Homo sapiens: one gene and its partners. Each later gene encodes a partner of the first gene's protein in a complex. Each region holds a gene or a part of one and is shown in the gene's direction. Other genes may lie near its edges. The genes, in order: HDAC2, MTA3 and HMG20B.

The links.
Region 2: HDAC2 (region 1) and MTA3 share a complex: the UniProt entries of both Homo sapiens proteins name them as parts of the nucleosome remodeling and deacetylase (NuRD) repressor complex.
Region 3: HDAC2 (region 1) and HMG20B share a complex: the UniProt entries of both Homo sapiens proteins name them as parts of the BHC histone deacetylase complex.

What each region holds. Positions count from the first base shown.
Region 1 is NC_000006.12:113,933,022-113,936,670, reverse strand, and holds the end of HDAC2 (histone deacetylase 2), read left to right. Parts: 3' UTR 1-3,643; downstream 3,644-3,649. UniProt on the Homo sapiens protein: Histone deacetylase that catalyzes the deacetylation of lysine residues on the N-terminal part of the core histones (H2A, H2B, H3 and H4).
Region 2 is NC_000002.12:42,575,086-42,578,734, forward strand, and holds part of MTA3 (metastasis-associated protein MTA3), read left to right. Parts: intron 1-3,649. UniProt on the Homo sapiens protein: Acts as a component of the histone deacetylase NuRD complex which participates in the remodeling of chromatin.
Region 3 is NC_000019.10:3,571,543-3,575,875, forward strand, and holds the start of HMG20B (SWI/SNF-related matrix-associated actin-dependent regulator of chromatin subfamily E member 1-related), read left to right. Parts: upstream 1-1,401; 5' UTR 1,402-1,452; exon of another isoform or gene 1,453-1,749; 5' UTR 1,750-1,767; coding exon 1,768-1,805; exon of another isoform or gene 1,806-2,149; coding exon 2,150-2,258; exon of another isoform or gene 2,259-2,275; intron 2,276-2,840; coding exon 2,841-3,044; intron 3,045-3,997; coding exon 3,998-4,118; intron 4,119-4,333. UniProt on the Homo sapiens protein: Required for correct progression through G2 phase of the cell cycle and entry into mitosis. Required for RCOR1/CoREST mediated repression of neuronal specific gene promoters.

The sequences.
Region 1 (3,649 bases):
GTGGTGCCAGGGGAAGTGTTAAATTTTTGAGTGTTCCTTTAGATGCCAGATGGGTTGTATCTGAGCCTTTTATTGCAGTTTGATGCCTACTAGTGTGAAGACTACTAGGTCATAGTGGATAGAGAAGCAATCTTTTGGAGACCTGATTTTAGCAAGGATACGAATAATATTTGACAACTTTGGGGGGATCTTGATGCCTCTGTAATTTACTCAAGGATAATCTCAAGAAAAATGGCATTAAGTAGATTACAGAAAAAATAGAACTATCATATTGTTATTATTGGCTATTTACATGAGCAATGCGGAGAAATGTTTAGGATTACAGCATTTAGAAGCTTCTCAATTGCTGCATTTCCTCACTGTACCACAAGATGGCAGATACTGCATTTAAAATTTTTTTTTCTGTGTGTTTTCTCTTATAGTCACTTGGTGGCCATGTAACAAGCAGAGCAACATGTATTAACAGATTCTTTTTGAATGCAATATTGGATTAAAAACTTTGAATTAAACTACAATTAAGTTTACTGATTTAGGTTTTCCTATAAGAATTATAACACTAATTTCTAAGTTTTACATCTGCAAAACACAGTAGAGTGTATCTGGTAGTCATTGACTAATTGTGACTTTGCTAGTCAGACAAAATGGAACTGAATATTAGAGCCAGAATAATTTTCTGTTTTGACTGGTGGTAAGAATCAGTTAGTATACAGAATGGGAAAGAATTGAAATTTATTTCTAGGAATTATAGTTATAGTGAAGTTAATATTCAGGGGCATTGGGTGCTTGTTCCACGACTTTTGTTTACTGAACTAAGTACCTAACCCCTTTGGTCTTTGAACACTGCAGAGTTATGATTAGGATTATTAATGAAAAATTCTTTTTTAGTAGAACAAACAGTTAAGGACAGAAGACACCTTGATTAGATTCTGTTATTTGCTCTTTTTATTAAGATTGTTTTTACTCTAAATGTTAAAGAAATGTATAATTATTTCTAAGGTAAAATGAGTAGCAGGATTCTGAATAGGAGATTTTTTTTGGCCAGACCCATTTTGCAGCCAGTGGTTTGTATTTAGGAGTGAGTTGAACAAAGAAGACTCTAATCTGTTTTTGTGTTGTGGATTTTTTATTCTATTGATAAATCAGTAGCTTCCAGCTTCTCTTGTATCCTCTACTAGTCATCTTTTTTGTTTCTTCAGAAATAAACATCCAGGGTCACTTCCCTGCCCTTGCCATATACTTACTAGGATGATGTACAGGTAAAACTTTTAAAGGAAAGTACGGACAGGCAATTCCTAAAGTAAAAGAGAGCACATTATCAAAACTGGCTGTACTTAACAAATACCAACAAAAAGTCATTACACTTCTGGCAACAAATAATGTTTGATTTAAAAAGACAAGAATTTCCCCTTTTGCTCTTATTTTTTAAATATGCTATGTCCTTAAGTGAGAAATGCACTTCAAAAATTTTCTTATTCTGAAGTCTAGCCGGAAAGTTTGAACTTGTGTTGCCTTTGGCTAGACTAGGTGAAATTAAGGGGCTTAAGAGGGCACTGTTGTGTGGCCCTGTGGTAGATAATAGCCCTCCAAGCATGAGGATGGGAGATCTACCATTCACCAGTATTTCCAAAGTTATATTCTTAAAAAGGCTAGATTTCTAATTTCCGTAGAATCTAGGTATGTTCTTTTCAACTCAGCATCTGATAAGAAAGTTTGGGCAAGTAGGTGCGAAAAATTTACTCTAGATACCATTTTCCAGGAAAAAATATAATTCAAGTCCAACGTATTACTAGCTGTCACCTTCCCCAACAATCAAATAAGCATTGTTATTGTCAAACACATTTACTTGTATAGTTCAGTGTTATATGTAATGGACTTAGGTATAATTCCTGTGCTATTCCCTTTTGATGCCAAACACCCTTTTGTAAGCTGTTTTGTTTGAAATCCAAATTTATATGTCTTAAAGTAAATGGCAGCATTGGGCTTTCTTAATGTAATGACTCTTCTGCCATCCTATTTCTAGAGTTAGGCAGAAAATTCTGTAAATCTATCTTATTTCCAGTCTGTTTGTGACTATGGTGGGCAATAAATCTGATTTCCCAGAAAAACACATCTGGACCCCTATAGGTAAGGTAAACAAGCCTCATCTTAAATTGTTTGTACTTCCGACCTGACCTCAAAACACCATCATCATCTAGAGCAGCAACAAGTAAAGAACAATGCACTGGAAATCACATATATGGGTCTAGCACCAGCCTTTACATTACACAACTTTGCTTTGGGCAAGTCATTTAAATTTCTGTGCTTCAGTTTACTAAATCTATGAAACTGACTAGGTAACAGCTGACATGCTTTTCCAGCACTCCGTCTTTTACCTGTCTGATGTCACAAATTGATCATTCCTTTCTGGCCTTGAGATGCGTATCAACCCAGATAGTCATTAACCCAGATAGTTGGCATTCAGGATAAAATGTTTTTGCCTTTCCTGTCCTGCAAGCTCTTTAAAGTCCAAAATATGCCTTTATATCTTTATGTGTAATAGGTATGAAATCTATTTCTTGGTTGTTGAATAGGATAGGCTTATTAGACATTCTAAAGTCAACTTTTTTCTCATATTTAAACATTTACCCGTAGAAATTCAGTTTTTTAAAGTTTTAAGTCAGTTGATTGTACCAAACATTACTATTAAAAAAAAATCAAAGTCAGAGACCAGAGTTTCCCTGCATCAGCGTTCAGTCAGGAGACAGGAACTATACTAATTTGAACATGTAAAGTTAAATATAATCCTTAATAATAACAGGATTGGAATAAGGGATAAAAGAAAGAGAATTCCTTCTATATATATGTATACACACACATATATATATATACATGTGTATATATGTGTGTGTATGTATATTATATAATATACATACACACACACAAAGAATGTCAGACAAGGAGCAGCCACCATTCTGCTTACTTTCACTGGATTAAGAGTTTCATAAGGGCAAGGGTTTTGTTTGTCTTACACTCCACTGGGGATTAATCTCCAGTGTCTAGAACAGTGCCTAACACATAAATAAAGCCTCAATTATTATTTGTGGAATGGAATGGAATTTGAGTGAAATGGAATGGGAATAGAATGGACTGGAATGGAAATAGAAGTGGGAAGGGGAATGGAAGGGGATAGAAGAGGATTGAAGAGGACAGAAGGAGATGGGATAAGATGGGATGGGATAGGATCGAATCTCAGGTCCAGGAGTCAGAATAACTGAATCCTATTCCAGTTCTGCCATCAACAAGTCCTGTGAAATTTGGAAAGTCACTTAACCCTCTGGCCTTGTAGAATATCTCAGTGGGCATGTCTGATGTTTCTTCATGGTTAGATATAGGTTGCATGTTTTGGGCAAGAATATCACAGGAATGATGCTGTGTTCTCAGTGCACCCAGTCAGGTAATGCATGATTTCAATTTCTCTCATTACTGATGATGTTAACTTTAATCACTTAGTGAATGAGAACATGAGCATCATTTTGAAAGCAAACTGCAAAGTTTTGATGTCAACATTTTAGCAATTACGTATAATTTCCCCCAAGGATACTGGCTTTGAGATAATGTAAATATACATGGGAAAGACAAAGCTCAAATAAAGGAAAAAGACCCATCTCTT
Region 2 (3,649 bases), on another chromosome or scaffold:
TGCCCCTCTCTGACCTCCACTTTCGCTGAAAGCAGGTGGGAGCTCTGCCTTGCTTACTTGGCACAAAGCACAATGGGCTTTTGGCTGTTTCTCCCTGCAACCACCTTAGGAGGACCGTTTATTTGTGTCCGTCCTACCCCTCACCCCTTGCTCTTTTTTCCATATCATTTATCACCTCCAAATATACTTACTGTGTTTATTTTCATTACCTGTCTTCCTAGAGTGTCAGCTGCAGTGATCTTTTCTGTTTTGTCCAGTTATGCATTCTGAGTGCCTTAGAATAGTGGCTGGCACATAGTTAAAGGCATTCACTAAATACTTGTTGAATTAATTAATTTCTGAAATGTCTGATGTTAATGCTTATGTGTACATAGCTTTACTATTTACAAACTGCTTTGATTCATTCATTTTACAAATAAAATTGAGGACCTTCTACCAGCCAGGTACTTTTAGACAGTGAGAATGCAAGGGTGATAAAAAAAAAACAGGTCTAGTGGAGACAGACATCAACCATATAGTCCCACAAGTGAAAGTAAAATTGTAGCTGTGCTAAGTTTAGAAATGTCACAGCATGGTGCTCTGGAAACCTAACCCAGGATTCACGTTTGTTACCCTTTTGAGCCTCACAGAACCTTACACCTTAAGGTAGCTAAATCATGCATTGTTTTCTTGAGGCACATAGTAGCTAAATTATTGGGTTGCACATCTAGGTGAACATAGCTTATTTCACACTCCTTTATCATTTCATGGCCATTCATTTCTGAAATGCCCCCCTCATCCATCCTCACCTCCTCCCTCCGCCTACCTGTTGTCAGCACAGAGTCATCCATGTAATAGCGAGTTTCTGGGACTGGGGTTGTGTTGTGAGAGATGGGATTCTTTGTAATTTCACAAAATGGTAGTTTGAATGGCTAATTGAAATATTTACATAGGGTCTTTATTTCTGAAGGGATGTGAAAAAGACATCTTATTTTAGATAATTCATTAAGCAAATATTATTGAGTACCTGTTTTGTACCAGGCACTATGCTAGGCTCAGAGATAGAATGTGAACAAGATGTACATGGTCTCTACCCATACAGGGTCCACATTCTAATGAGGGAGACACCCGGAAAGACAAGTTGATGGGCATAAAGAAAATAGTAATAGTAATGAATTGTATTAACTTCTAAGAAGGCAAGAACCTTGACATAGAGAATGACAGGTCATTTCCTTTAGGTAGGGTGGAACAGGACATTGAAGTTGAGGCCTAAAGGATGAGGAAGAGGGAACCATGGGAAGAGAGGACGCAGGAGTGTTCTAGATAAAGGCCCTGGGAAGATCAGAGGTGAAATTGGCTAGGTAGGGAAAGTTGTTAACATGATGGGAAAATCCAAATAATGATTTAAAAATACTTGAAGACAGGCATGGTGGCTCAGGCCTGTAGTCCCAGCTGCTCGAGAGGCTGAGGCAGGAGGATTGCTTGAGCCTGGGGGTTTGAGACCAGCCTGTGCAACATAATAAGACCCCCCATCTCTGAAAAAAACCAAAACAAGGCCAGATATGGTGGCTCACGCCTGTAATCCCAGGACTTCGGGAGGCCGAGGTGGGTGGATCACCTGAGAGGAGTCTGAGACTAGCCTGGCCAATGTGGTGAAACCCTGTCTCTACTAAAAGTGCAAAATTAGCCGGGCATGGTGGCGCATGCCTGTAATCCCAGCTACTCGGGAGGCTGAGGCAGGAGAATCGCTTGAACCCATGAGGCGGAAGTTGCAGTGAGCTGAGATCGTGCCATTGCACTCCAGCCTGGGCAACAGTGAAACTCCATCTCAACAAACAAACAAAAAAACCAAAACAAAACCACCTCTAAACTGAAAATACTTACTTTGTTCTGATAGATAAGCTAGGGAAAAAAGGCTACTTGGGAGGCTGAGGCAGGAGGATCGCTTGAACCAGGGAGTTGGAGGTTGCAGTGAGCCGAGATTGTGCCACTGCACTCAAGCCTGGCAACAGAATGGTACTCCATCTAAAAAAAAAAAAAAATATATATATATATATATATATATATATAAAAATGAACTCTTAATTGCTGTAATGCACTTAGTCTCAAACCCTGTACTCATTTCATTAAATGCCATTAACAGTTGCAGACTGGCACTGGGCTGTAGACCCATGAGTAACCATGCTTCAGAAGAATGCTGGAGAGGGTGTGTTTGTAGAGGGGAAGAGGAATATGGTAGCTGTAAGCTACCTAGTAGCTAAGTGAGTGCATGGTCAAGAAGAGACTATTTATTTTGAACTATGCTCCCCGCCCCCTAAGCAGGTTTAAATAAGAATTTAATTAGCTTTGTATAGCATCCCTATTGGAGGAACTCACTAGTGAGGCAGAAAAAAATATGCCTTGAAACTGTTGATTTGGATTTTTTTTTTTTTTTGAGACGGATTGTCACTGTGTCACCCAGGCTGGAGTGCAGTGGTGTGGTCTTGGCTCACTGCAACCTCCACCTCCCAGGTTCAAGCGATTCTCCTGCCTCAGCCTCCCGAGTAGCTGGGACTACAGGTGTGTGCCACCACACCCAGCTAATTTTTGTATTTTTGGTAGAGATGGGGTTTTACTATGTTGGCCAGGCTGGTCTAGAACTCCTGACCTCGTGATCTGCCCACCTTGGACTCCCAAAGTGTTGGGATTACAGGTGTGAGCCACCGCACCCGGCCTGGATTTTTAATGTCTCAAGAAGAGACAAAAATCACATTGAAAATCCAAAGCAGCAGTTTCAAGGCATATCTCAAGAAGACAGAAATGACTAAGAGCTTATATTTGAAGTCATTGATAGATTTTATTTTATTTACATGGAAATTTTGGCCTGTTCATTTAGCAGATTGCTGGATCATTACTTCTGGAGAATGTATTTGATCACAATATTATGAAATATAGAAGCACTTTGGTTAGAAATTTAATATGATTTCAGTTTTAAGGGGCACTGTTTCCACAGGACTATTTCTTAATCTAAAATACGGCTGCTGGACTTCATAAAATTGACAAATTTACTGCAGCACTTATATTCTTCTTTGTATTTGAGTATATCTGTAAGACCAGAGAAATTTCTGAAAATTTGTTCTCACACTTGTTTGAAAATGGAAATCACAATAGCATTTTATTATAATCTGTGTGTTTTTACAGGGAACTTTGTAATGAATGATTGACCTTCTTGAGAGCTCTCAGAATTCTAGAGAATAGGAGAGCAGGAGCCTGGGCCCCAGCTGCAGTAAATGACAGCATAACTGAATTTTTTTTTGAAGCCATCATACTTTGGAAGAACCTAACTGAATATTGTTTGCATTGTAGATTGTAGCCAAAAAGAAATGAGAGTTTCAGTGTTCATAACTCAAGGTTTTTAATATTTTTAGATGTGAAGGTAAACTAAGTACTGCTTAGAATATTGACTCTTAGAGATTCATAGACTTCCTTGGTGTAGAGAATGCTTTTCCAGGTCACCTGGTCTATTCTGCATGATGGCTGCTTCCCACCTGCAGAGCTTCACTGTCCATGGAACATGGGATACTTAGGGGAGGGCTTGGTGATTTTACACTTAGCTAGTGCTTTCTGGGAATGGGTTTGGACGAGGTGTGTTTAAATGACTGAAATAAATTATTTCCGTCAGTTGTGGCTT
Region 3 (4,333 bases), on another chromosome or scaffold:
GAGTATATTCCTAGGAGTGAACTGCTGAATTGCATGGTGATTCCACATTTATTTAACCCTTTGAGGAAATGCCAGTCTGTTTTCCAAAGCAGCTGCATCTGCCTCCTAGACATCTGAAGGATTCAATGAATGTGTATTGAGCATCCACCATGGGCAATGCTGTGAACCAAACAGGCAGGCCACAGGGAGAAGCCGACTTATGGAGGCAAAAAAAAAATCAGAGAAGGCCTGGCTGAGCAAGTGACATTTAAGCGGACTTGAGGAAGAGGAAGTGGGCCGGGCGTGGGGGCTCACGTCTGTAATCCCACCACTTTGGGAGGCCGAGGCGGGTGGATCACGAGGTCAGGAGTTCAAGACCAGCCTGGCCAAGATGGTGAAACCCTGTCTCTACTAAAAATACAAAAATTAGCCGGGCGTGGTGGCAGGCGCGTGTAATCCCAGCTACTCGGGAGGGTGAGGCAGAGAATTGCTTGAACCCGGGAGGCAGAGGTTGCAGTGAGCCGAGATCCAGCCACTGCACTCCACCCTGGACGACAGGGTGAGACTCCGTCTCAAAAACAAAAGAGGAGGTGAGCAGCCCCAACTTGGGCCAGAAGCCTAGACTGCTGCTGGGAGGTCCCTGATCCACCAGAGCGGAGCCTCCTGACCCATCCTCACGAAGTCCTTGCCATCTCCCTTCACCACCATCTTTCCCCAAACACTTCCAGCCCAGCTCCCAACCCCACCCCCTGCCTGACCCACACCCAGTTCTCAGCTTCCCAGCATCCCAGTCTCTCTGTCCTGGATATCGTGTGATGTCCCCGTTGCACAGGGGGGAAAGCCGAGACCCCAGAGGGAGAGCAGCCCCTATGGCCAGAAGCCCTCGGATCCGGACGTCGGGGGCTCTAAACTGAGTAAATACATAGGAAACTTCTCCGCTAGGTTTTGCAGGATGTTAAGAACAGGTCCCACCTTGCCTAGGGCTGGGGACTGCCTCGCAGGACCTTAACCCTAGCAACCCACCTCCGTCCCCATGGCAACCGGGGCGGGGCCCGACCCGGATCCGCCGGTCGCCCCATCCGGCAGCGGCTGGGAGTCTTGCCTTCAGAGAGGGAGGAGGAGTCCGCGCCTCTCCTACTGGCCCTTTAAGAGGCTCCGCCCGGCAAGTCCGCCACTCGCTCCCGATTGGTCCCGAGCGCGGCCGAGCGCAGCCGAACTTGACGCACCGCCCGCAGCCTTCCTTACCAACCTCCCACGCGACTCAGCAACCTCCCCAACCAATCGCCGGCCGGCGCGCCGATCGGTATCTGCATGGGCTCGCCCGGGGGGAAGGTCTCACCCAATGGGACCGTTCGCCGAGGCCTTCATTAGCATGCCGGGGGCGGGGAGGGGCGGGGCGGCCGACGGGGGCGGGCTGCGGGCGGTTGGTTGGAGCGTCGCGCAGTCGGGAGGTCCGGGAAAGTTTCTTTGGAGGTGAAAACAGCCGCGGAACTCCGGGCCCTGAGAGGGGGCGGGGGTGCAGGGGTCCCAGGGCCGGGCCGGGGTCTTTCCTGGCCCGGGGGAAACCGGCCCAGGCCTCCCGGGGGGGGCAATCGCCCAACAAAGGATTCTTGGGGCGCCCGCCCTCGAGGACTTCCCTGCCCCTGGATCCGGCCCCCCCAGCGCTCCGGGCCCGGCATCCCGGGGCTCTCCATCGCGGGGTACCCCAGTTCGCGGTCTGCCATCGGGCAGCCCGGGCGCTACTCACCTCCGCCCGCGTCCGTGTTCCAGGTCCGGCCCGGAGCGGCCATGTCCCACGGCCCCAAGCAGCCCGGCGCGGCCGCCGCGTGAGTGCACTGATCCCCTCCCCACGCCCTCGCTACTTTCCCGGCTGCAGCCCTAGCTCCTGAACCCCTGACCCAGTCCCTCCCGCCGGAGTCTTGACTCCCCCACCTGGGTCAGGGGGCTTCTCCCTCCACCCAATTCTGCACCCCCCACCTCGGCCTCCAGTCCCTCCCAGGAGCCCCGCTTGTCCCACCTTCCCCGGATACTGACCCCATCAGACCCTGCCTCCTCGGGCTCATGCACTCTCGCTGCAGCCCCGCCGTCGGGGGTCAAAACGCCCTGGGGTGGGCTTTTGGGGGAGGGGAGATTCTTGGGACGGGGCTGACCGCGGTATCCTTGGCTCCAGGCCGGCGGGCGGCAAGGCTCCGGGCCAGCATGGGGGCTTCGTGGTGACTGTCAAGCAAGAGCGCGGCGAGGGTCCACGCGCGGGCGAGAAGGGGTCCCACGAGGAGGAGGTGAGAGTCCCTGCGCTGAGCTGGGGGAGGCCCCGGGCTCCCGCCCCAGCCTCGAAGCCCCGCCCCAGGCTGGATTTGAATTGCTTGTGGCTCCGCCCACAGCCCATTTTCCTCTGGAAGCTGAGACCCCGCCCCGTGCCAGCTGCCACGCCCCTGACAGGTCCTCTGCCACTCTAAGTCCAGGCCCCGCCCACCGCACAATGCCAGCTCTGCCCACTCTAAGGTCCCGCCCACTTCCACTCCTTGGGGGCGGCACCCTCCCCTTGGTCCTGTGGGCCCGTTCTCCAGCAGAAAACCACGCCCACCAAGCAGAGGCCACGCCCACAACCGAAGTCAACGCCAACCCTGTACTCAAACCTCGGCCCATAGTTCCTCAGATCCCCTCACCCCTGGCCAGGGATCCCTCTAACCCACCGTGTCCCGACTGCTGACCGGGCCCTACCTCCATCTTTTCCGGGTTCTTCCTCCCAGCTAGGCCCCGCCCCCATCCCCGCCCATACGCGTTAGGCCCCGCCCATGCCCCTCTGAGCCCTGCCCCAGTACGCCAGGCCCCCCTCCCAACGACGCAGCCCGGTTCTGCAGCCGGTGAAGAAACGCGGCTGGCCCAAGGGCAAGAAGCGGAAGAAGATTCTGCCGAATGGGCCCAAGGCACCGGTCACGGGCTACGTGCGCTTCCTGAACGAGCGGCGCGAGCAGATCCGCACGCGCCACCCGGATCTGCCCTTTCCCGAGATCACCAAGATGCTGGGCGCCGAGTGGAGCAAGCTGCAGCCAACGGAAAAGCAGGTGGGCGGGGCGGGGCGCCGAGCAGGGCTGGCGGGGTCCACGGACTACCCCCCAGTAGCCCCGACCCCCAAAGGATTCCACGTGCAGGGTTTTTCCTTCTTCCTGGAGAAATGCCCACCCATAACCAACTTTTTTTTTTTTTTTTTTTGTGAGATGGAGTCTTGCTCTGTTGCCCAGGCTGGAGTGCAGTGGCGTGATCTCAGCTCACTGCAACCTCCGCCTCCCGGCTTCAAGCAATTCTCCTGTCTCAGCCTCTCAGGTAGCTGGGATTACAGGCGCGTGCTACCATGCCCTGCTAATTTTTGTATTTTTAGTAGAAATGGGGTTTCGCCATGTTGGCCAGGCTGGTCTCGAACTCTTGACCTCAAATGATCCGCCCACCTCAGCCTCCCAAAGTATTGATATTAAAGGCGTTAGCCACCGTGGCCAGCCCATGACCAGCTTTTGGGGGCGCGGCTAGCAAGAGGCAAGACAGATTGAAAACTGGATGACCAACAAAGATATGTCTAAGAAGTCAGGATGGGGCCTGGATTTTTTGCGAAACCCGATTTTCATATCCTGTTAGTTTAAAAATTGCAAAAACATCACGGAAATGTAACAAAAGCCATCACTGCTTTGCATCCCTGTAAGTGAGATTTCAAAGAGAGAAACGGGTGCGGGAGGGAGTCCAGGCATCCGCATACGCTGGAGGTTGGGTTCCTGCCCATGACTCTGGCGTCCGGGAGTGGTTTGTCAGGGCTGGAGGTGGGGAAGAGTCCGGGGCATGGGAAGTGAGGTGGGAGCTCGGAGGTCCCTGAGCAACAGGCTGAGGAGCCGGTTCTGTCTGCCTGGAGGGAATAGGGAGCTATAGAAGGTTCAGGAGAGGGGAGGGTGCTGTGAAAGCAGAGTGATAAAGACTGGATCCTGGCGTTGGAGGCTTCCCCTGCTTCAAGCCTTCTGGTGCTGCCCCCCAGCGGTACCTGGATGAGGCCGAGAGAGAGAAGCAGCAGTACATGAAGGAGCTGCGGGCGTACCAGCAGTCTGAAGCCTATAAGATGTGCACGGAGAAGATCCAGGAGAAGAAGATCAAGAAAGGTGGGAGGGGTCGGGCGCGGTGGCTCACGCCTGTCATCCCAGCACTTTGGGAGGCCGAGGCGGGTGTATCACCTGAGGTCAGACCAGCCTGGCCAACATAGTGAAACCCTCCCCCTCTACTAAAAATACAAAAATTACCTGGGCGTGGTGGCGGGTGCCTGTAATCCCAGCTACTCGGGAGGCTGAGGCAGGAGAATTGCTTGAACCCGGGAGGT